Linked DNA regions of Homo sapiens: all the other regions are linked to region 2. Evidence: fine-mapped expression QTL. A gene starts in region 2. Each other region holds a variant in brackets. All regions are shown on one strand. Distances are from middle to middle.

Region 1 (8,174 bases), 120 kb before region 2:
TTTGCAGATGAGAGAATGGAGACTAGAGGAGGCGAAGTCACTTGCCCACGGTCATAAGCGGGGGAGCGCAGAGCCAGTTTTCAATTCAGGAGTGTCTACTCTGAAGCCCTCGCTTCACTCCGGAGCCCGCTGGCTCTATCCTCGCACCGAGCCTTTGCGACAAGTGCACAGGGAACGCTAACCCCAGCCCTCAACGCTGCACAGAACCCGGGGTGAAACCCGCGCAGCACGACGCGCAGGGAGTGGGGGAGAAGGGAGCCCCGATGCCAGCGCCGCAGGTGCCGCACTGTTAAATGGTGTGCCACGGGCCCGGGGGTCTAGGGACCGCCTGGCGAGCGGCACGTCTGGCTGAGGCGACCCTCGAGGAGGCCGCCGCATTCCCAGCGTGGGGGTCCTCCCGGGCTTGGGTGCGGGGGGTCAGCAGGAGAGACCCTTCCGCGCGGCCTCCCTGCCTCCCCGGGGCCAGGGCGGGTTATAACTAGCGGCTTCCACACAGCAGGAAGCCTGACAGAGGCTGCCCGCGGGGCTCCCAGCGACCCGAGGACATCGCACACTTCCGGCCTTCTCTTCTCACACTCCCTCTGCCTTCCAAGTTCTCCCCACGCAGCTCAGGCGCGGGCACTGGCACCGCCCTGGGCACCGCCTGAGCAGGGCTGGGGGAGACCCGCCGAAGGGCCCACTCGCCCAGAGACGCCGTGGGGTCACGGCTGCGGCCTCGGCGGGGTGGGCTCGACACACAGGGTCAGGCCTCGGGACCACCTCTCCCCATCCCGGCTGTCCCGGTCCCCAGCCGTCCTGCCCGCCTCAGACCGTCCGCCTCCTGCGTGTCTCCTCCACTGAGGACGGCGGGGGAAGACCCCGGGAGCGTGGGCTCTGCACTTAGACGCATCCCCTCCTCCCGGCTGTGGAGCCGTTTCCCGGGGGTTCCGGGGCCCTGCCCGCACTTCCGCCTTGCCGAGGGCGGGAGGAGTGTGGCGGGACGGGCGGCGCCGCCCTGCGGTCTTACTTCTGGCAGGGCCCGCACTCCACGATCCCGTTGGCCTCCCGGATGGCCGGCTGGTACACGAACACGGGGTACTCCGTGTCGCAGGGCTGCAGCGGGTCCTGCTTCTTGTGTTTGTGGGCTGCGGGCGGAGAAAGGACATCACGCCACCGAAGGGGCCTCTGGCCTGCGGTGACCTCGCCTCGGCACTCCCAGGGCCAGAGTTCACCCCAGTGCATTTGCAGAGGGTCCCTCCTCAGGCAGTTCTCAGGACACGCGTGGGAGGAGCCGGGCGGGGGGTGAGGGGAGGGAAGACACCCGGAGTCTCTGGAGAGGGTGGCTTGGCACGGGGAGCGCCGCAGGGGCCCTGAGCCTCGGTGGAGGGAAAGCGCTTCCTCTGGGGAGCCTGGCCCTCACTGAGCTGGGGGCAGTGCACCATCTCCAGGGCCCCTTCCAGCACTCAGATCCCGGGGGAGGGTCTGAGCGGGGAGCAGAGGCAGTAGGGGCACCAAGGGGTGGCTTGGGGGTACTTAGGCCCACCACCCCTCCCTTCACTGTGGACAGACGCAGTGCAGTTCCTGGGCAATCCTGCCCTGCTCTCCCGCACAGCCAGGCCCACACTCCACCCATTGAGCCTGAGCGCCTGCGGTGGGGGCAGCCGGGCAGGTGGGCTCCAGGCCTGGGGCTGCGGAAGCCCAGAAGCCACAGCCACCCGGTGCGGGACTCCTCGGGGGCTGCGCGATTTGCCTTAGCTCCCTGGGACAAGGACAGTGGACTCAACCAAAGGTGGAGGCGAGTGCCTCAGCCCCGCTCTGCAGGACCCGAGTCCGTTCCCTCCCGGAGCCTCCTGAGGTGGGCACATGGCAGAGCAGGGCCCTGCCACACAGGCTGTCTGCATGGCCCTTCTGTTCTCAGGGCCTGGCTGTGGCCCCCAGGGATAGACCTAGAGGCAGGGAGCACAGGTGTGAGCTACCTTCCCAGGCTCATGCAGAGTCCTACAGGAGAGCATGGGTCTCCCCAGCTTCCAAATCCAGAAGCTCCCAGCCAGAGCTGGAAACCCAGAGGGGACACTAGCTGGCGTGCAGAAAACTCTCACCGAGAGGAGCAAGCCCACAGCGGCCAGGGCTGTGAGTTTTGTCCCCAGGGCTGGGCACAGAAGCCTGCCTGACAATGGCAGGGTTGAGTGGCGTCCCCAGGGTCACGCAGTGGAAGGGGCTGCAGCACCTACGCCCCGGCCTGGGACTCCAAGTCCAGTGCGCCTTCACTGGGGACACTGACATCTGTGTAGGCCAGACCAGGGGGAGGAGCTCCAGGGGACAGGTACCCCAGAGAAGAGAAATTCTGAGCAGGCAGATTGAGGGGGATCATCTTCAACTTTTGCAAGATGCAGCTGCTGACAGAGACAGAGGGGACAGTGTCCTGTCACTGACACCTAGTGACTGTGAACACCCCAGAGCAGCCCCACCCGATCGCGGATGTGAGTCCAGAAGGAGTCTGGAGACACAGCCCGAACTGCCCTGAGCCCAGGGGCAGAGGAAGCCCCAAGCCAAGGCCAGCAGAAGAGAACGAAGAGCAAGCCAGAGAGAGGACCACAGTGGAGATGAAGAGATGGGATAAGCTGGGGACAGCCCAGGTGGTGGGAAGTTCTGGAACCCCATGGCAAAGGTTCTAGGAACACGGAGGAACTGAGCAGAGCCCGCTGAGGCAAGATGGCCTCCTGCAGTCATGGAGGGCCCAGGCGCCCGGGCAGTGAGTGCTTTGAAAGGCCAGGCTCATTGCCGCCCTGCACGTGTGGCCACAGCCACCGGGCTTTGTGTTGGGGCCTCTCATGGTTGCTGCCTCTGGGGGACTCTGTCCTCAGACACAGGGTCCCGCAGGGGAATCATCCTGAGAGCTTCCTGGGGCCCCTGGAACCCGGAGTCCCGCTGAGGGCTGGGGTGCCGCTGTTTGCTTCTCCAAGGGGTGGGCTGGAGGTTGCTCACTCATACTGGCTCATGGCCACCCGGCCACACCACCGGCTTCCTCTTGGAATCTTACGTGTTCTCACCCAAGGGGAGGCTGGAGTTTCTCATTTTCCCTGGGGCCTGACCGTCCTCATGTGGGATGAGAACTGGGCTAGACTCCCCAGTCCCCCAACCCCCAGGAATGGTACTTTAAACCAGGAGAGCTCAGCCCTGCTTGGGGTCATTCCTGGGACAGGTCATGGAGGGTGGGTTCTTTGTAGCTCCTGCTGCGTCCCCAACCCACCGCCAGCAGGGATGGCCTCAGCTGGGCTACTTACAGTGATGGAAGACACTTTTGGCTGGCCGGAACATAAGCCCAGCACAGGGTGGACACGGCACAGGAAAACATGGTGGCACATGAGGGCAGGATGTCATGGGGTGGTGATGATGGCACATGGAGTGGCGGTGTCCCAAGATGATGTCACACACAGAGCCAGGAGTGAGGGATGTGATGAGAGAAGGCCACGCAGGGTGAGATGTGAACAACGATGCTTCAGGGTCACCTATCCCCACTGTCACCCACCCCACAGGGAATGGTCTCACGTTAGTGGACCAAAATGCCACTGCTCTTCAGCACATGGCCCTGCAGCTCCGTGCACTCACCCTCGGCCCCTCTGTCGTACCAGGAGCCCCAGACACTCCACTCCAGCAGGAACCTGTCAGACACAGGACTGAATCTCGGAGACCTCTGAGCCCTCCCGACTTGGGTTCCCAAGGAGCTGGAGTATCCCTGACAGCCCCCGGCCCATCCCCTCTCCTCCAGGACACCCTCTTCCCTGCTTGAGGGCTCTGGTTGAGCAATGAGGTCCCTCCCAGGGGCAGCATGCAGGGAAGAGGTGGCGTCCATGCCCAGGGATTGTGCCCTCCTTCCCCGGGGTCTGGTAGCAAGTGGGTTGTCCTGGAGACCTTGCAGCCTCCTGCTCAAGGACACCCTCCTAAGCCACCCTCGCATGCAGCCCTCCACCAGCCCCGTGTCTACCCCCACTCACAGCACCAGCTCCTGCAGCAGCCACCTGGTCGCCGTCAAGAAGGCAGAAATTGGCTGGGAAGGAGAGAGTGCACACCGCTCGCACCTAGGTCCAAGGGTGAGGGTGCCCCCCCCCCACCACCAGCACCACCCTCAGAGAGACCAGAGAGTGGGCTGCCCTGCCACTGGGAGCAGGGGCAGCAGAGCACAGGCCAGCAGCCCAGCACCCCCCATCCCCCCACCTCCCACCTGCCCTGCAGAGCTGAGCTAGCTGGGAAATGCCTATTGCAGGTCAGACATCTCGGGTGGGGTTGGACATGCCCCTCCAGGAGACGAGTCAAGCCCTCATCCTGGTGCTGCACTGCTGAGGATCCCTGGTGATCAAGCGGCAGTGTCAGGGGCTGAGGCTGGGGCAGGCTGCTCTCTCTGTCTCCGCCAGAGGCACTGTT[G/A]TGTCACAACTACCAGAGCAGTCCCTCTGAAGCCCCAAAGCCAGACCCAGAGGCCTGCCTGGGAGTGGGACTGAGAGCAGTGGCTCTGAGCAGAAGATGGAGATGGTCAAGGTAGGGCCCTGGGGCCAGACACCCAAGGTGGGTGAGAACAGGGACCAGTGACCTCATTCCAGGACAGGGCAGAGGACTGGCTGGCTGGCTGGCAGAGGGAAGGGCTGGGTGACACTCACGCTGACCAGGGGCTGGGCTGCACTGTGGTGGTGACTCGAGGGTTTGCACATGGCCTGATAGTCATACATAGTCACTCTGAAAATCAGAAGCGGGCTGTGATGAGTCCAAAGCCACCCCCACCCCCTGCCCCTGCCTCAGGAGGCTTTACTAGCAGAGCATCCGTTTACCGCAATTCCCAAGGGCGCCTGAGCTAGGACAGCAGATCAGAATACAGCTCATGCTGAAAATTACATTTCTGCACTTGGAATGGTTTAAAGACAATGAAGAGCAAATGGCTTTTGCCCTCGGAGTTGGACGGTTTTCCCTCTAGGGTCTGAGCTGCGGAGCCCCTCCCAGGGATGCCCACATGCCCTTACGCCCTCCCCACATCATGCTGACGCCCTGGCTCCATAAAGGTTGCTTTTGCAGCTCTTTGGGGGCACCCACTGTGGGTTTTGGAGGTCAGGATCCTGAGATCCGCCAGGACCACTTAGCGTCAGCTCTCGGTTTGCTGTGTCTATTTGGACTGGGGAGGAGTGTGCCCCACTTACTGGCTGAACACCCCCATGCTGAGCAGCTGGGTCAGGACAGCACCATCCACCTCCCCCAGAAATCTTCCCGTCTGTGAGAGAGGGACAGCAGAGAGAGAGGGAGGGAGAGAGATGGAGCAGGATGGAGCCTTCCGAGTCCAGCACTATTTATTCAGCTCAGGTCGAGGCTTTTGGTGCCAGTTGGGCTTTCCCTCTGACTGCCTCTCAGCATAATCCAGCTGAACCCTTCCACCCACGCCCCTGTCCGGTCCTGGCTCCCTCCTCACCGTCCAGCCTGGTGCTTCCTCAACTGGAAGGAGTCACCCGCTAGCTGACTATGAGACCAACGTAGAGGCTGCAATGTGATTTTTTTAATGGTACAGAATTCCTTGGAACAATTCTGTGTGAATCACTTGCAGCAAGGTTAAAGAATGTTTTATGAAACTGGATTTGTTTTATATGCTGTGTGTGTGTGTGTGTGTGTGTGTGTGTGTGTGTGTGTGTGTGTTGGGTCAGATATAAAACACGTTTCTGCAGGTCAAGGTCAGAAGCAGCGCCTGTCTCATGCACGCTGGTGTCCTCATCTTCCCAGTGTGAGAGGGCTGCTGTGGCTTTTGCTGTCCCTCCATCACCTCCCACAATCAGTGTGCCCTGTGGATCGGTCATTTGTCCCCTCCATGACAATGACCTAACCGGATCCCTTGCCCTGTCTCCATTGCCCACCTGCCCTCCTAACTGACCTCTCCTCTTGTCCCTGTGGCACTGCCAGAGTCATCTTACTCAAATGCAACATGGATGGGTCACTCTTGCCTTCATTTCCAAAAAATAAAACAGGACCCTCCCTCCTGCCCCCGGCTCCCCTTTTGTTGTCCATCAGCCAGCACTTTGTGGCTTCTGTGCCCTGTGCCAAGCAGCGGCCCCCTAGCTGGCTGAGAATGGCCTCAGGCCCTCCACTCTGCCACCTCTCATGGCCTCTGTACCTGCCTTGGCCTCTTGAGTCTGCCATTTCCCAGCATGTCAGGGTGGCAGAGCTTGGGCTTTGGTGTTGGATTTCGACTTTAATGTAGGCTGTCTTTAAAAATTGGGGATAGCGTGTGTCCGGCGTGTGGCTCCCAGTAAATACTTGAAAAATGGCAGCCATCGTTAGGAGGAGAGGTCCGGGGTCCGGCTTGGCTGTTCTCCCTGCCGATTACCCTTCCTCTGTCCTCATGCCAAGGAACTTCTTTCCTCACCCTCGCTGGGAAGTCTTTCTATTCTAACTTTCCCAGCCAGAACAAGGCCTTCCTCTGCACACCGGCAGCCTGTGGAGTCCTAGTCTCACTCTGCCTGATAAGATATTTGGTTGAAAACTGTATGAGAACAGGACCATGTCTTACTCATCTCTGAATTCCCCAAAGTGTCTTGGTACCTGGACATACTCAGTCAGTGTGGAATGTTGATAGGGAAGGGAGGTGGGAACCAAGCTGATGGCCACGTCAGGTTCTTCATGGAGAGCTTTCTAGCTGCCAGGGCCCAAAATGATGACATGTGTGATAACTACCAATAAAAAGAAATGCAAGGCTGGTACAGGAGCTGAGGCACATGGGCCTGGCCAATCTCAAGGAAAGCCAGGCATTGTCTGGGTGCCCACCTGGGGCCTGCCCTGGGCAGCCAAGTAGACTCCAGCAAGCCTTCTGAAGGGAACAGAGATGTATTCCAGACAAGGGCTAGGCAGAACGCACAACTCCTGAACACCCAATGAACAACCAGAGAAGTTCTCTCTCAAATAAGAGATGATGGTGCAGCTTCAGGACAATAACCCCAGAACTGTTATGCCCATGGTTCATAATGCTGTGACTTATAATCAGCCAATATGGGGCCACAGGTCCCCAGATGCGCCCACACCAGGAATCTGGGATGGAGTCAGGAAGTATTACTTTCCAAATTGGACTTAAATAACAAAACATAGTCCTTACATCCTACAGTATTTCCTGTGTAAGTGGAAATGGCTGACTTATAAAATTAAAACGTAAGGATGCAACCCACTAAAAATGCATGGCAAATTGTAATCTAAAAATGGAGGGTCAATTACAAAAGTAAGCAGCAGGAAAACAGATTCAGACAAAGGTGCTCACACTTGTCTGTCTACACTCTGCTAGTTCTTTACCTGGAATGGCCTGACCACCAAAAACTATTTCATAATACCTTTTATTCATAAGGCACTCACCAGGTGAGTCTGATGCAAAGATGAATGAAATGGACACGAATCAAGAGCTTCAGACTAGTTTGCATGGACAGGCAGGGAACACACAAACTCTCAGACATGGCTGGCTGAAAACCGGCACCTCCTACGGTGGTGGAAAGGAGTGGCAACCTAAAGCCCTGGCAGGCTGCATGAAAGAAGGCAGTGGACATGGCAGCGGGACAGCAGGGAGGGTCAAGGGCATTCCAGGGACACAACAGCACATGGGAATGTGAAAGACATTGAAATCCTGCCTGTTCTTCACGGCGCAGCCCTGAAGCTCTCCCTGGTGCCTCCAGCTGGAGTAAACTCTCTCAGCTGGGGCTCGCTTTTTGCTATTCTAGTTACTGTGTGTGTGTGTGTGTGTGTGTGTGTGTGTGTGTGTGTGTGTCCCCTCCGTCACCCCCTCACCTGACAGCAGGATTCTAGGGGACAGAAATCCACTTCTGTCCCACAGCACCACACCATGTCCTGTTCACAGTTATTATTCCATGCATATTTGCTGAAGGAATGTGTGAGGGAATGAATGACCCGAGTCTTCTGCTCCCTGGGAAAGTGCAGCGGGGTGCAGACAAGGCTTCTGACGAGGCTGGTCTTAATTCCTACAAACCTGTCCCATTCTCCTTCCTAATTCTAGGCTTATTCACCAACAACCCTGTGGTTTAGACCCTGGATTCTGAGAAGAGAGGTCCCTGAGAGCAAGGATGTGTATCCTGGACACTAGAAAAATGTATCCCCCTCCATAAATTACTAGCTTGATTTTTCTAGGATTTGTCACTCTGGCAGAAAATATCCATTCTCCCCGTCTTCTT
Region 2 (8,174 bases):
GAAGGGTGAGCTGCCATTGGAACTGCTCTGGGGAGTTACAAATATTAGAGAACAGTGAAGTTGTTTATAACCTGGTAAGAAGACCAGCCAGCCATAAATCGGCACAGAAAGCAATGCATATTAAGGGGGCGGATGCTGGACATGGCTCGGGGGCTGACAGCTGGAGGTATGGGAGGTCTCCCTGCGCAGAGGCCACAGCCCTTTCACCTTCTACGGCCCGAGCAGCTTCCAGGGCCCTGCACGTGCCCTCCAAGTCTCCGCTGGCATCACAGGTGTTAGGCCTGCATCCCACTGCATCCACTCCCTCCGTCTCTCCTTTATTCTTCACCCCACCTCCACCCAGTACATCTGCAGGTCTAATTCCACCTTGGCCTCTGCTCCCTGAGGACCTGACACAATGCTCTTGACCACGCCCCCGAACCACCCCCACTGCCCTGCTTTGGGAGTTGAGAAAATCATTCACCTCCCTGGGCCTCAGTGGCCCCATCTGAAATAAACCGATTTGATGGGATGCCCAAGGCCCCTCACAGCACCGGCATTTGGGGGCTTCGATGGCTGACTGCCCTCTGCCACCCGGTGGGCTCTCTGGAAGGGGGTGACTGACCTTCTGCAGCAAGAGAGAGCCTGAGTATTTGGTCACAGTGTTATACAGGTCCCCGCCGAAGGTGTCAGCCCATAGCTTCACTCTGCCAGGCAATGAAAGGACACGCGTATACACACACGTACACGCACAAATACAGAAACACACGCGTAGACATATGGGTTCACACACATAGAAAGCCAGTGTCTACACACAGACACCTGCTGATGCATGCATACTCCAACACACAGACACATAATGCATAAGAAATGCACACACACGTACACACACATACATACCCCCCACACACATGCATATGCATACACACACGTGACATATGCCCAGAAACACACAAAAGAGCACCTGTCCCTCCTCCTTGTCCCTAAAGCTACAGCCATGGCCTGGGCAGGAGACGCGGAGAACCCTCAGGACCCAGCGGCTGCACTGCTGTGTGCTGAATGTCCTCGGCAGGTTCTCCTGCTGAGGGTTGTGGGGCCGGGCTGACGAGCCCAGGACTGAGCTTGACCCCAAGCTTCCAGGGCCTCTGGTTGGAGAGTGGCAGACTGAGAGGAGAGAAGGAGGGGAGAGGCAGTGGACAGCCTCAGGCCAGGGCCGGAGGACCCTGAGGACAAAGGACAACCTGCCTGGCCACAGCTGTGGCCTCTCAATAAATCGTTCCCTCCAGTGCACTCCACTCAAAGCCACTGGGGGCTGCCGAACCCTCTGTTGAAACCTCAGAGAACGCGTGAGGCAAGGGCACAGCAGGAAAAGGCTCTGAGCTGCCACTGCTGAGCCTGAGGGCAGGGCAGGCCAGGAGGGCATAAGGAGGCCACACCTCACCCTCTGTGTAGGCAGCCTAGTGGGGAGCCCCGACCTCTCGCCCATGCCCCAGAAATGCACCACAATCCCACCATCTTGGCCAGGCTGGTGGGGTCCTGGGGGCAGGTACACAGGGCTGGGGCTGAGCCTCTCCAGATGGAGCGGAAGTGGTTTGCCTGTGCGATCCTTTCAAGATCAGCAGTCATCACTCAACCAATGTTTATCAAGGTCCTACCATGTGGCAGCCTGGAGCCACCCCACAGTCCCCACCCTTGCAGGGACAGCTTTGTCATGCGGGTAGCATAGTACATGTTTGAAGGTGCCCATGAAGGTTGGGGAGGGGTAGTGGTATAAGGGAAGGCTTCCCTGGGGAGGGAGATCTGAGCTCCAGGTTAGAAGTTTGGTAGAGGTTAGCCTGCAAAGGGGTCTGGGAGAGGATTCTAGGTCGGGAGTACAGAAGAGCTTGGAGGAGTAAAACGTGACTTCCGGGCTTCCAGTGTGGGTTGTTGACCTGATGGTGTTGTTACTGAATACAATTAAGACTATCAGGAAGGGCAGGGGGAATGAGCTGAGGAGGGTGAAAAGTGATGTGTGTACCTTGGGCTCTGCTGAATGTGAGGTTCCCGTTGTAGAGCTACCAAGTACCATTGGGAAGGTTGTGCACTGCACAACTCTAGAAGGCACCAATTGTGTTTTACCTTGAAAGACACAAATCTGAATTTAAAACCTCACATGATGTTTAGGAAAAGCTGCCCATAAGCACTGGGTATGTGTCTAGTAGGTAGAGACAGGGCTGGGAGTCATTGATGCAAAGGTAGGGATTGAAATTCTGAGGGCAGGAGGGCTCTCTCAAGGAGAGTGTGCAGCGTGAGATCTCTGAGCGTCGACAGCTGCTGGGGAGCACCCCCCACCTCCGGGGCAGGCAGAGGAGGAGGAGCACTTGAGGACAGCAGAGATAAGCCGTGCCCATGCAGGCCCAGCGGAGCGCAGTGCCACGGAAGTCAAGGACTGGGATAAAAGAAGACGGGGGCTTGTGTGTCCCAAGCAACAGGGTCTGGGGTGACAAGGCCAGGAATGTCTCCTGGATTGGGCATGAGGAGGGCTTTGGGAACCCTGTGGAAACAGACTTGGGAGGAGGTGGAAGCCCGGCTGGAGGGAAAGACTGAGAAGAGAGGTTCGGCGGGAGTGAGGACAGGTGGGGCCAAGTCCTGGGCAGGCAGATGAGGCTGTGTGCAGGCTGTTGTCTCTGGCAGCACCCAGGGCTTCTGCATAGATGGCCGCTGGGGCCCCCCTCCCTGAAGGCCTGGATTCCAGCCACCCCGACTTGGCCCTCAGCCCACTCCTGGAGTTGGCCCTCTCCTATCAGCTGGTGTGTGTTCTGGGGATGAAAATTGTTCTGAACATCTCCTGCAGCAACAGATAGCGTTACGGGCTGGCGGCGGGTGTAATGGTGAAAGTGCAGTCCAGGCTGACAGGAGTTCAAATCCCAGCACCTTCACTTCCTGGCCTTGTGAACTTGGGGAAGTCACCTGACCTCTCGGGGCCTCTGTTTCCTCAGCTGCAAAATAGGGATAAAAATAAGCCCCCACTGAATGGCTCTGCAAACTAACGGTGTCATTTGTGAAGCGCCCAGCTCCGTGCCAGGCAGGGAACAAGGAGAGCTATGCGGCTCGATGGGAAACGATGCTGCCTAATCCACTGGTCAGCAAAGGCTAAGCACAGGCACGGTGTGTCATTTAGGCTCCCTGTCCCCACTCCTGCTAAGACATGCAGTTGGCAGGTGGCTCTGTTGGTGGCCTGGCTATGGTGCTGGGCTCAAGCGGCTGGAGTAAACAGGATGGGGTCTGTAGCACCTACAGTCTAGAAGGCTCTGCTACCCACATGTATTGGAAATTTCCTTCCTAGGACCACCTGAGCTAGGGCCTAAAACACAGACACCCCAGAGAGGTTGCACAGTAATTTACATGTACACCAAGGTGCACATGACTGATACCGGGTTCTTTCCTGGAGCCGGTCTTAATGGCCGGCTAGAGAATCAAGGTTGGAAGGAGGCAGAAAGGTGTAGAAAGGGAAGACTGCGGCCACCAAAATCCATTTTTTTCCCCAGTTCCTGGACAAGCCACCTCCTGTGCGCATGAGACGTTCTGTGGGTTCAGAACTGCTTCCCCTTTTTGGAATGTCAAAATACGCATTTCCTGCCAAATGCTTCGGGGAGCTGCGATGCTGAGATAACCCGGCTCCTCCAGGCTGCCTCATCTCAGCGATTATCCTGAAGGAGCACCCGCCCTTCAGGTGTCCCAGAAGCTGCTTGTCAGGCCAGGAAGACAGCAGCCCTGATGATCAGTTCTTCCTAAAGCCATCCGGCTCCTGGGGAGAGGCAGGTGGGACTCCAGAACTCACAGAGCTTTTGGGAGGAGAAAGAGGAGGCCGGAGAAGCAAAGGGCTTTACAGCAAGAGAGTGGTCAGTCGCAGCCACTGGGGAAAAGCCCAGAGGGAGGGCAGGGGCGGGAGGAGTGGGCAGAGGATGGAGGCCCAGCCCGGGAAGAAAGTGGGAAAGGGTGACCGGGTTTTTGGGGTGGGGTTGAACGTGATGCTTACGTTTCCAGAGGAATCTTGGCCTGTCCCCACGCAGGGGACAGGGAGGTGCCTAGAAGCAGCAGCCACAGGAGGGCCGAGGTCTTCTGCACAAAGGCCCAGGCCACGGGCATTGGCTGGAGGGGAATCCAGCGGCTGCTGGAGCTGGGGTTTGCGAGGAAGTTGGGAGTTGCAGGCATGGTGGGCCTGGGGTTGGGGAGGGGAAGGAGGGCAGAGCAGCCACAGACCATGAGCTCTGTCTGCCTTCCTCCCAGACCCCAGGACGCCCCAGGCCTTTGTCTTCCGTGCCTTGGCGAGCCTGGGGTCTCCAGCCTCTCAGTCCTGGGTGGGGAGGGCTTCTCTCTGCCCCACAGCTGCAGCTCACAGAAGAGTCGCCCCACCTAGCAAGCAGGCCTCGGAGACAGGGACTGGGGGAGAGGCTGTGGCAACATGAAACCCTTTAATCCGCTGGCCTCTCCTCTAATCCTCTCCTGACAGCAGGGAGGGGGTGGCAGGGGGTGGGGAGCTGCCTCCCAAGATTACCACAACTGCAGCTGGTTCCCTCAGGGCTATAGTGCACCCCTCTGCTTTAAAGAGGCAGCCCCGTTCCTGTGGAACCACCTTCTGGACCCAGGAAGGGCTTGCTGTGACTATGGCCAGAGGACAGCAGCTGAGTTTGCACAGTACTCTGATTGACCCACAAATCTCTTGTTGACCCTGAGGTGGGGGTGTGTCCTCATCCCTGCTTGGCAGAGGCTCTTGAGGCCCGGGGAGTCCCAGGGGCAGAGCTGGGACTCTGGCTGGTGTTTCCAGGCCTGGTGCCTTTGGGACAGGTCATAGGTCATAGGTGAAGTCAGTGGACCCACGCCTCCACATCTCAGCTGCTCGTGGGCGGGGCTGGGGACGCATTTGCTGTGCAACTGATGAAGCTTCAGGACCCCTGAATCCACAGACTCCCCCCTTTCCCGGAGAGGCCCTAGCAATGTGTTCCTGTGGCCAAATGTTTTTGTAAAATATGCAAAAGTTGAGATAGTTTAACCATAACCGGTTGAGACTGTCTGTCTCTTTCCATCCCAACTTCTCTTCCGTCTGAGGGACTCTTAGTTGGATGATGTTTGGGTGGCTGAGGGCACTTGGGGGATCCAGTTAAGAGGAAAGTGAGCTGGGGAAACACTTAATCTGGGCTTAGTGGGATATGCTGACATGGTTCACAGTGACTTCTTTGTACAGAGAAGTTACCTCCAGCTGAGTGTAGGCAGGGCTTCCAGGAACACTCATCCCACAGGACATCCCACCAGCAGATGCAGCAAGAGAGGCTGGGCCGTGATGTGAGCGCACGCTGTCACACCCACCCTGGCCATGTGTGGTGGGGAGGGCAAAGTAACAGTCAGGAGCTCATCTGCAGAAAATCTACAAAAAGCCACACAGGTAACATCGTTGGTGGAGGATTTGGTTCTCACCAAGGCCTGGCCAGGACAGAAGTTCTCTCCTGTTAGGAAAATAGTGGATATTGAAAGAATATAATTACACCGTACATTGCTTTGTGTTCTGATGAGAGTTACACAAATTAGAATTGATCAAAATTCTTGTGTTGTGAGCCCAAACCAGTAGTAGTACCACATGGGTTCTCCGGGGGTGAAGTCATAGATTTTATGCAGTCCCCGTATCAGATTATTTTCTTAGTGTAACTGGTGCACTGTGTCTTCACAAAATCTGGTGGTTCCAGCAAAATGGTAAGCAAAATTGCCACCAACGCAGAGAAATGCTTGCAGAAGCAAGTGTTCTGATGACAAAACTCCTACACAGATTCATCAATAAGTCAGTGCTGTAGTATCAGAGTAATCTGGTGGCACAGTTTTGTGGCTGAATACAATGTATTTTTTAAAGGCATCTAAATGATTCCTATGAATGCCTTAATTTCACATAAATTTTGTACATGTTTTGAGGATTACAAATCAAACACATTTAGAAAAAATACTACAGAGGCACACTGGGCAGTCAATACATAAAAAGAATGTAACTTCTCTAGGTTTTGTGAATTTGGTGGAATTCACCAGCTTCTTAAAATTTGTAATTTGGAATGATTTTTAAAACTGAATAAATATTCACCTTTTTTCAACTTTTTTATTGTGGCCCAATATTTATTGTGGCATAAAATGTGCCATCTTAATCATCTTTTTAAGTGTACGGTTTAGTGTAATTAAATACATTAATCATGTTGCTCCACCTTCGCCGCCATCTATCTCTATAATTCGTTCATCTTGTAAAACTGAAACTCTGAACCCATTAAACACTAGCTCCCGTTCCCTCCTCCCCCAGCCGCTGGCGGCCACCACTCTCCTTTCTGTATCTCTGATGTTGACGGTTCTAGGGACCTCACAGAAGGGAAGTCATCACATAGTTGTCCTTCCATGACTGGCTCATTTCACTTAGCACAATGTCGGTAAGGTTCACCCACGGTGCCGCGTGTGTCAGAATTTCCTTACTTTTTGGGGGTGACCAATGATGGGTTAATATTTCATTGTGTGGATAGACCTCATTTTGTGCATCCGTTCCTCTATCGATGGACCCTGGGGTGGTGTCCTCCTTTTGGCTACTGTGAAATATGCTGCCGTCAACACGGGTGTGCAAATATCTCTCGAGATCCTGCTTTCGATAATAAATATTCACTTTTATTTTTATGTTTGTACCTGGGATTTGCATTATTTTTCTTTTATGGGTAACCACTCCCACATTATACAAGCTCCCACTGCCCCCACGGGGTTCCAGCACCCTGTCCGGAAAGCCTTCGCCTCCCTCTACTGTGTCAAGCGTGACAGCGGCTTGGAAAGCTCCGTCCTTCGCAGACACACTGGCGGCCTGTGTCCTGTGCGCCCCTTAGACATACTTAGGAAGCCTCAAAACCAGGCCTTCTCAGCCCAAGGCCACCGCCGGCCTCCAGGCGGCTGCCTCTGCCCACTTCCCCTTCAGGCTCCAGCGACGGCTTCCTTCCCTGACTGGTGGAGGAGGGGGTACAGCTGGGCTGCATCCTGCGTCCCCTACATCCACCCCTTTCCAAGGAGTCCTTTGGAAACCAGCTTTCCCACCTGTTTCCTGCGGGCCCCTGTCTGGTACCGGGCCTCCCCACCCTGCCTCTCATCATCTATTCTTAATGCAGCAACCGAAGGCTCTTTTCAAACGTAAGTCAGACCCTGTGGCTCCCTCCCTCTGCTCCGAAGCCCCCAGGGCTGCCCATCTCCCTTAGAGGAAAAGCCACAGTTTTGACCACAGCCACGAGGCCCTACCTGGCTGGAGCTGGCTTGATTTTAAAAATCATTCCAAATTACAAATTTTAAGAAGCTGATGAATGCCACCAAATTCACAGCCACGAGGCCCCACCTGGCTGGAGCTGGCTTGATTTTAAAAATCATTCCAAATTACAAATTTTAAGAAGCTGATGAATGCCACCAAATTCACAGCCACGAGGCCCCACCTGGCTGGAGCTGGCTTGATTTTAAAAATCATTCCAAATTACAAATTTTAAGAAGCTGATGAATGCCACCAAATTCACAGCCACGAGGCCCCACCTGGCTGGAGCTGGCTTGATTTTAAAAATCATTCCAAATTACAAATTTTAAGAAGCTGATGAATGCCACCAAATTCACAGCCACGAGGCCCCACCTGGCTGGAGCTGGCTTGATTTTAAAAATCATTCCAAATTACAAATTTTAAGAAGCTGATGAATGCCACCAAATTCACAGCCACGAGGCCCCACCTGGCTGGAGCTGGCTTGATTTTAAAAATCATTCCAAATTACAAATTTTAAGAAGCTGATGAATGCCACCAAATTCACAGCCACGAGGCCCCACCTGGCTGGAGCTGGCTTCTCCTGACCGCGCCTCTCTGGGCGCGGGCTCCCGCTGCTCCTTGGGTGCCTCAGGCGCGCCCCCCATCGGTGCGGCTGACCCCCGAGCTTGCAGTCCGCGCCGCGGCTGTGTCTGCCTGCTTCCCCCTGCGTGGCCGGCCCTCTCATTTCCATCAGTGTCTGGCGTCGGGTTTCCTGCAGGAAGAGCTGGTACCCCTGGATCGGGCAGCTTGAGACGAGTTTAACAGAGAGGCTATTTACAGAGGTGTGGACGGAGTCCTGCAGGGACACTGCAGTGGCCAGGGCTGGAAACCGCGGGAGCTAGCCCCTAAGCCTCGGGGAGGGGGACGGGGACGG
Region 3 (8,174 bases), 110 kb before region 2:
AGTTTGTGTGCAGCAATAGATAACTGCTCTAGAGTTGTTAAATGAGTAAGTTTTTTTAAAAACAGCAAAAACAGATGGACGGACAGAGGGTCGGACAGCTGAACAAATGGCATTAGCCCCAGACTCTCCGCCGCCCTGTCTTCCACTCATCTCCCAGTCTAGCGCCTGCTGCCTCCAGCCCTCACTCTCAGGCCAGTTCAGTTCTCCACACGGTTACCCAGTGTCTGCTGTGTGCCAGGCACCACACCAGGCAGGGTCTCTGGCCTAGTGCCCTCCCATAACCCGACACAGTTCAGGCTGCATGGTCAGAGCTGTCCAGAGTGAGGAAGGAGGAACTGGGCCCTGATCACAGTGGGGGAGCAAGGGTGAGCCAAGCACGGCGGGAGCGGGGGCCCCAGCAGGAGCCTCTAGAAGGTCAGTTCGTTTCTGCCCTGCTTCATTTCATGGAGGGTTTGGGATGGCATATAAAACTACACACGGGGTAAAAAGGTAATAGAATCATTGAGAAAATGGGGGTGAATGAGTTAAGTCAACAAATACATTATAAAATATAAATCTCTGAGTAATTGATTGCTACCACATCTAATCCAAACTTGTTCTCAGTGATTTTACAATCTGTGAAGACATGTGAGCAAATGTGGTCTGGACAGAATAGGACCAAAGTGGCCCAGTGGGTTATGAGAGGGTCCCTCGAGGGACCCTGGAGGGACCCTGGAGAGGCCACGTGCTCTCCAGCTTCTCTCAAGGCTGGGGTGGTTTCCCTCCAGGGCCGCCTCCCCGCACGGTTGTCCCGCTGCCTCTGGAGCAGGGGCTGGAAACTACAGCCCGTAGGCCAAGCCTGGCTCACTGTTGATTCATGTGAGCCCTTGATCTAAGACTGGCTTTTCCATTTTCAAGTGGTTGGGGAAAAAAAGTCAAAAGATTGATAACATCTCATGACACGTGAAATTTATATGAAATTCACATTTCAGTATTCAAAGGTTTTACTGGAGCAACGCCACCTGCATTTGCTCACAGATCGCCCATGGCTGCTTTCTTGCTACAACAGCAGGGCTGAGTCTCATGAAGCTCAAAACCAACATGTGCATCCGCCCCTTTAGGAAACGCTCGCCTACCCCTGCTCTTGAGCTTGCTCTCAGGCTTGGCCATCCTCTCCCTCTGTCCTGCCACCTCCCATCCCAGTGTCCAGGATGCAAGCTCTCTCTGGGATGCCTTAGCCCATGCTCCGGCCCTTGAAAGCCAACACCACGGGAGGCCTGGGGACACGGTCAGTCTCAGTCACCCAGGGCGAGAGGGGTCGGAGCACGAATGAGGGGGCATCAGTGATCCCAGAGCCTCACACCAACCACTGGTTTCAACTCTTATCATCACTGGTTTTCTCCCAGAACAACGGAAAAATACAAAGGTCCGGTGCTCTGTCTGGGGAGGAGTGAAATGACGAAAATGGGGCATGAAAGGGAGAAGGGGGAGGGTACCAGAGGCAGGCGCCCAGGTGACCGTGATGCTCAATTAGCTGTGTGTCCTGCAAAGCCCCGCCCACACTCCCACCAACAGGAAGTTGAACGAAACCATCTTTGGCTTCTCTACTCTTGTGGCTGAGAACTGCTGCTCGTTAAGTGGGTCATTTAAACACTACCCCAAGGAGTTAGATTTCATGACCCACTGGTGCCCCTTTGTCCTCACTTGCCCTCTTTCCCAAGTCTCCTTCCGACATCCCTGCTCCAGTTCCTGCCCTGTTCCGACGACTTCTTTGGATCCGAAGCCGCATCCCGGTCAGGCCAGACCACAGCCCTACCATGCGTGGAGGTGGCCTTGGCCACGACCTCTGCATCAGCCTCCACATCCCAGGAACTTAGAGCCCTCAGCTGGGGCTGGCTTAGACACTGTGTAGTCCAGCCCCCGGCGAGACACAGCTAATGGAAGTCGCTTGCCCACATCACGTTTCTAATTAGTAGCAAAGCTCACACAGAACCAAATACTATGCCCCTTTCCCCGAGGCTCAGGCAGGAGGCGGTTCTGATGCTTCTGCCTTGCTTCAAGGAAATACATCTGGTGAATATATCTGGATTTGCTTCAGGTTTGAATGGGCTTCTTTCTCAGTTTGATTCCTGGCTAAAGGAATAATCCATTTTGAGGCCCCTTTTGGAGCCCAGCAAGTATAAAAATATTATTGTACTTTCTCTTTTTCCTTTCTGAGCACATGCTGGGTTCAGGGAGATACCCACAGCCAGCGGGGGCGGGGGGAGGATTAGGATGTGCAAGCCAGGCATTCAGGCGAGAAAGCATCGCGTCCATCCCCCATTTCTTCTCTGACACACCGAAGGCCGGGCGTGGTGGGTGAGAGTATAATTTTCCATAAGGTCCAGACAGGACAAGAACATGAAGTGGGGAAGCCATGTCTTCTGGGCCCCACAATGGTAGAAAGGCAGGCGGGGGTTGGGGAATGATCTGATAAGTGAGTGTGCTTGGATCCTTGTGGGGAGGCCCCGAGTGAGGCTGGGCCAGTGTGGCCAGGCAGGGCCCTGAGATGGGGTCACTGAGTGGCTCCTACCAGGCACGGGAGGAGGCCAGGCTAGTGACAGATAAAATGAAGAAGTAATATTTTCTCTGACTCCCTGAGTTGAAAAGTGCTCCAAATTCTGCCTTCTTGCTCTGTTGACTTTGGTGTCAGAACACCATGTTCTTCAGACCTTTCACCTGAATTGGCCCCGAACAGGGTTCCCTCCTGGGGCCGTGGGGCTCTCTTTAGCTGGAGTGGCTGCCCAATGTCTCCAGTCCTCCTGCCGCCCTCTCCCCCTCATTCTATATCCCCAGTGACTCACCTCTCGGGACCTCTTGGAGATCAGAATGAACCCGTTGTTGTCGATGACGAAGCAGTCCAGATCCTGGGAGGAAACCCAGAAGGGAGGTTATGCCAGGGCCCTCACCCACCCCGGTCCTCCAGCCTGTCCCCCAGCTCTGGAAGGCAGCGTGGGAGCTTCACTGCAGGGAAGGAGGGCATTTGGGAGAGGGAAGCTGGCCTGCCAGGAGGACCGGGCGGAGGGCCATGGCTCCCTCCTCCACCTTCCTCACACGGGCAGAACTTACACTGTCCTCGCAGCTCTGTGTGCACGGCCCATCCACAGTGCTGCACTGGAAGGAAGAGGAGAGACTGAATGTGGACACTGCATGTGTAGTAGAAATGGCACGTGTAAGTGGGAATGCTGTGTGTGTGGTACGTCTGCAGTGTGTGTGCATGTGTGCATGGGGTGTGTATCTGCACATGGAGGGCACCTGTGTGGGGTGTGGGTGTGGGATGTGTGTGTCGTATGTGGAGAGCACGTGTGTGAGGTGTGTGCATGTGTGTGTCTATGTGTGGGGTGTCTGTACGTGGAGGGCACATGCGTGTGGTGTGTGTTAGCATTGTGTGCGTGGTATGCATGTGGTATGTGGCCTGCGGGTGCTGCATTCGGCAGGCCCTGGGTGGTGGAAGGGCCCAGGTAGCCCTTCTAGAGGTGCAGGCTCTGCAGCCCCCAGGCCTCGTTGCTGGTGTGGGGAGGGGACTTTGTGGGCTCTGTGGGGCTCCTGCACTGGCTGTCTGGTTGAGGCGGTGGGTGACCGCAGCCCCCTGCCCTCCATCCCTCTCGATTCACTCTTGGGCTCCCTGCCCTTGCCCAGAGTCAGGCGGCAGCAGCAAGTGATGGGGGCCGAGGGGCTCGGCGTTGCAGGAGATTGAGGCTGAGGGAGCTTGAGGGAGATGAAGGGGGCAGCTCAGAAGCCCAGAGGGACCTGAGGGCTCTGGGGAAGCAGAGGGGAAAGGAGCCAGTAGAACGGACAGGACGAGGCCAGGCAGAGCTGGGAATTCTCAGCCAGAAGCCGCTGTCGTCTCTGGCATCTCTTGCCAGCCATCAGGGCCTGGACCCCGGACCTTGGACGGTGGATCGAGGTGGCTCTCCCTTTTCAGCGGGGAGGCATGCCAGTGGCTTTGGAGTGGCGAGAAGGGGTGACTCTGGGTCGTGCCCTCAGCACTGGGCTGGCAGGGGCTGGGGACCAGCGCTGAGGCCCGGCCTGCAGGCTGGGGAGCTGAGGGGCTGAGAAGTGTAGGGGCCGGGAGGGCATCCTGAGAGCCTCAAGGCAGTGGAGCATCCAAGGGGAGGGAGAGGGGGTCTCACACCCAGGGGAGCGTGGTGAGTCCCCAGCCCCGACCTGGCCCGACATCACACCTACCTGCCGCGTTGCCGCCCAGAATTTGCGCTGGAGGAATTCCAGCTTCATTTGGACGCCCGCGGCTACAGGGCAGAAAGAGAGAGGGCAAGGCCAGGGAAGAGACGGGGAGAGAAAAAAATAGAGTCAAGTTAAAGAGAGGAGGTGCTTCCGCAGGAACTGAGGAGAGAGACCGCAGCGGATGGGAGGACTGAGTCAGAGGGCAGAGTGCAAACTGGGGTTTCTGGGGAGTGGGAGGGGTGGGGGAAGAACAGAGACGGCAGCCTCTCTCGTTCCCA[C/T]TGGAAGAAGAGCGACAGAAAATGCCCAGCAGTGATGAGGCTCCCATTCCAGAAAACAACGAGGGCAGATTCATCCTAGATCTCTGGGAACTCAAGGCCGGTGGATGGGACAGCTCAGTCTCCCCTTTCCCATAGATGGGAATATAGAGGCCAGAGAGACCCACCCTTTTGACCAAATCACGTGACCAAGAGTGGCACCCTGGAATTCAGGGCCGTTGCCCTAGCAACTCATGGGCTCCTTGGATCTTAACCTGGTGTAACCATTCCTTTCATACCCTCTGTCTGCTCAGGATCTTCCCTGCTTTATAAGGAGGCTCTTTTCCAGCTCAAAGCCAGGTTCGGGTTTGCCCAGGGCTGCAGGTGGGTTCCAGGAAACTACAGGCACCACCAGCTGGCAAATAGTTCTCTTTTGATGACTGTGCTTACAAGGGCCACCCCTGACTTTCTGGTTCCCAAATAGGCTTGGAGAACCCAAGCAGGTGCTCACATATCCAGAGAAATCTGGGACAAAGAGCTCCAGGAAAACTTGGGGCCAATGAATAGAAAGAAGAGGCAGGTTATATTGAAAAGAAGAAGAATTTCAAAACTAGGCCAGCTTCCTAGTGTCTGGTATAATAATATCAAAACTGCGCTGGGCGCTTAGAACGTGTCCAGCACCTCACATGCATGAGTGTATTGAATCCCACAGCAGGCCAGTCCTATTATTATTCTGACTTTCCAAGCTGAAGAAATGGAGACTTTTCAGAGTCACATGGCTTGCCCAAGTCACCAGCTTGTTAATCACAGAAGCAGGACTGCAGCCTGGGCCTGTCTCTCCCTGAAGCTGCCTCCTCTCTGGACCTGGACTGAGTCCTGGTGATCGGGAAGGAGCGGCGGGCACAGGCAAGCCGCTGTCTGCTCAGGCTCGGGTTTCCTCATCTGTGAAACGGGAACGGATGTGGCTTCTTAACCATTACGCTGTGTCCGTCACAGTCATTCTCACTTCTCGAGTACCCAGTTGGTGGGAGTTCCAGTATGGCACAGAGATACAGGATTGTGTTTTTGTTTTTTCACTCTGGAATGATCTTAGAGAAATTTGATGGGAAAAATGAGAGCAGGGAAGGGTCAAAGGCCAGAGGTCCAGCCCTGCATTTTCCAGGGTTGTGATCTTTGCGTTTCGTCTCCTCAGCTGCAAGATGAGTCACGGTTCTACTTCCCCTGGAAGGGCAGAAGTTGCATAAGATTGTTGAGGCTCAAGCGAGATAATGTGTGAGGCTGTTACTCCAGACTAGAGCCTTGATTTTTAAACTTCAGCGTGCATCAGAATCGCCTGGAAGGTTTGTTAGAACCCCGCCCCCAGAGTTTCTCCTTCAGGGGGTCCAGGGTGGGCCTGAGAGTTTCTGAAGTGTTCCCAGGGGTTGCCGATGCTGCTAGTCCAGGCACTATATTTAGGGAACCCCCGTCCTAAAGCCTCACCAATTGAATCTCCTAAGATGATGAAGATGGCCTACATCTGTGCTGTCCTAAACGGTAGCCAACAGCCACACGTGGCTACTGAGAACTCGGAGTGTGGCTAGCACGCCTGAGGACCCGAATTTAAAAAACAGTTAATTTTAATTAACTTAAATTTAAATAGCCACGTATGGTTGGTGGCCAGCGTTTTGGACAGTGTTGTTCTAGAGCTCATCTGAGTTTGCAGATGAAGAAACCGAGGCTTTGAGAGGTACCTCCCCTCCCTTGGAGTCTCATGGCAATCCTGGGGTGGTGCTCCGGCTGGCTGGCCTTCTTGAACAGGTCCTGTGATATGGGAACATTTGAGTGCTTTGGGGGTGTCTTTGTTGCTTTGAGTTCCAGGTAGCTGAAAGGAGTGGGCTGGAAGGGGACGGGGAGACCCATTTGCTGGCTCATGACAAAGATGAGAGCTGCAGACACAGCGCACAGCGGCAGGTGAGGTGTGCTCAGGGCCTAGCATGGCTGTGCTCCTCCTCCCGCTCATGTGCCCCTCTAAGGTTGCGGGGACCCCTCGGTCTCTTCTCCTTCTTTTCCCTTATAAGACCACCCTAGACATTCATTTTAGACAGATTTCTTTCACCTGTAGGAAAAGGCTAAATGAAAGAGGATCATCAGAGCGAATCACGCTACTGCTCAGAATGACCAGCTCTTCGGGATTGAAGAAAGCTTCCTTCATCCTGTCCTTGGCCTCCGTGGTCAAAGAGGTCTCACATTATTCCTAGAATGAGACTCTGCCTTTCCATTTGATGGCTCAGTGTCAAGTCGCATAGAATCATGAGATTTCTGAGCTGGAAGGAATTCTACGATTCTAACATGGGGAGTCTGGAGAGGGTGGGGGTGTAGGTGTTGAGGCTCCTTGGGCAGAAATGGGGGGAGCAGGGCACAGAGCATATTTTCCCCCACTTGGTTCCATTCCAGGCTCCTCCAAGCCAAGCTGTGTGTCTTGCCCCGGGTGTCCTTTGCGAAATTTAGGGCATTGCAACCGCCTATTGGCATGTCATCTGCCCTTGGGTCACAGAGCGCTAATGAGTGCGTTTTACAATCCTCTTGTAAGACAAAAAAGTTCTGCAAGTCCCCACTCGACCCAAGAAGTCCAGCTGGCTTCAGCTCTCACTTTGAACTTAGCGTGTTCTCCCCCAGACCTGACCCTCCTTGAGACTTCTCCATTTCAGGACACATTTTCTATCTGATTGCTATCACTTTCCCTCCTCCCATCCAACGTCTGCACACCTCAGTTCCAAAACTTTATAAATCTGTCCGCTTCCCTCCATCTCCACCGTTACCACCCTTGGCCAAGCCAACATTGCTCTCACTTGGATTAATGCAAGCACCCCCGAACTGGCCCCCGCCTTGCATCCTGCCTCTCTCTGATCCATTCTCCACATAGAGTGGATCTTTCTGAAGATCAAATCACACCACTCCCTGGCTTAAAACCCTCTAATGTCGTCCCATTGCTCTTTTTTGTTTGTTTTGTGTTTTTGAGACAGAGTCTCACTCTGTCACCCAGGCTGGAGTGCAGTGGCACAATCTCAGCTCATTGCAACCTCCACCTCCCAGATTCAAGTGATTCTCCTGCCTCGGCCTCCCTAGTAGCTAGGATTACAGGCGCGTGTGATACCATGCATGGCTAATTTTTGTATTTCTAGTAGAGATGGGGTTTCGCCATGCTGGCCAGGCTGGTCTCAAACTCTTGACCTCAAGTGATCCACCTGCCTCAGCCTCCCAAAGTGCTGGGACTACAGGCGTGAGTCATTATGCCTGGTCCCCATTGATCTTAAAATCTAAACTTGCAAGATGGCCACAGGAACTGGCTCTGCTGATTTCTCTGATTTCATCCAGAAACACTTCACCTCTCAAACATGTTAAGCTCATTCTCACCCCAGGGCATTTGTACCAGCTGTTCTCTCCTCCTGGAATGCCCTTCCCCTAGAACTTTACATGGCTGGCTCCTTCCCATCGTCAGGTCTCAGCCCAATATCATCTCCTAGAGTGGCTGTCCCTGGCCTCCCGAGATAAAGCCAGCCAGGGGGACCTCCCTCACTTTCACTCTCTACCTTATTACTTTTTAAATTTTCTAAGTGACATGATTTGTTCATCTATTTGATTTCTCATTTATTGTCTGTCTGGGGCTAATAGCAGGCAGGGGATTGAGTTTTGATCCCCAGCACCTAGAATCGTACCTATCACAGTGTGACTCCATAA

What was found.
Region 1: its variant is fine-mapped to the expression of CACNA2D4 in caudate (GTEx, PIP above 0.99). The same link has a PIP of 0.9 or more in putamen.
Region 3: its variant is fine-mapped to the expression of CACNA2D4 in whole blood (TOPMed, PIP above 0.99).

Annotation. Positions count from the first base shown.
Region 1 is chr12:1,796,412-1,804,585 of GRCh38, forward strand. It overlaps CACNA2D4 (calcium voltage-gated channel auxiliary subunit alpha2delta 4), which reads right to left. Exons shown (of 38, transcript NM_172364.5): 30 at 5,163-5,233; 31 at 4,632-4,707; 32 at 3,975-4,027; 33 at 3,589-3,641; 34 at 3,264-3,284; 35 at 1,007-1,124. It overlaps LOC105369602 (a long non-coding RNA gene), which reads left to right and starts at 4,028. Exons shown (of 4, transcript XR_931549.3): 1 at 4,028-4,512. RefSeq lists enhancers at 1-720, 721-1,625, 8,082-8,174, 8,132-8,174 and silencers at 334-463, 564-793, 8,165-8,174. The variant G/A (reference allele first, on the strand shown) is at 4,402.
Region 2 is chr12:1,914,250-1,922,423 of GRCh38, forward strand. CACNA2D4 (calcium voltage-gated channel auxiliary subunit alpha2delta 4) reads right to left here and starts at 4,403. Exons shown (of 38, transcript NM_172364.5): 1 at 3,998-4,403; 2 at 605-686. The coding sequence starts at 4,224. RefSeq lists an enhancer at 2,476-3,052.
Region 3 is chr12:1,807,456-1,815,629 of GRCh38, forward strand. It overlaps CACNA2D4 (calcium voltage-gated channel auxiliary subunit alpha2delta 4), which reads right to left. Exons shown (of 38, transcript NM_172364.5): 27 at 4,207-4,268; 28 at 3,088-3,132; 29 at 2,823-2,885. LOC105369601 (a long non-coding RNA gene) reads left to right here and starts at 5,741. Exons shown (of 5, transcript XR_931546.3): 1 at 5,741-6,407; 2 at 6,559-6,676. It overlaps LOC105369602 (a long non-coding RNA gene), which reads left to right. Exons shown (of 4, transcript XR_931549.3): 4 at 1-42. RefSeq lists an enhancer at 5,516-5,755. The variant C/T (reference allele first, on the strand shown) is at 4,482.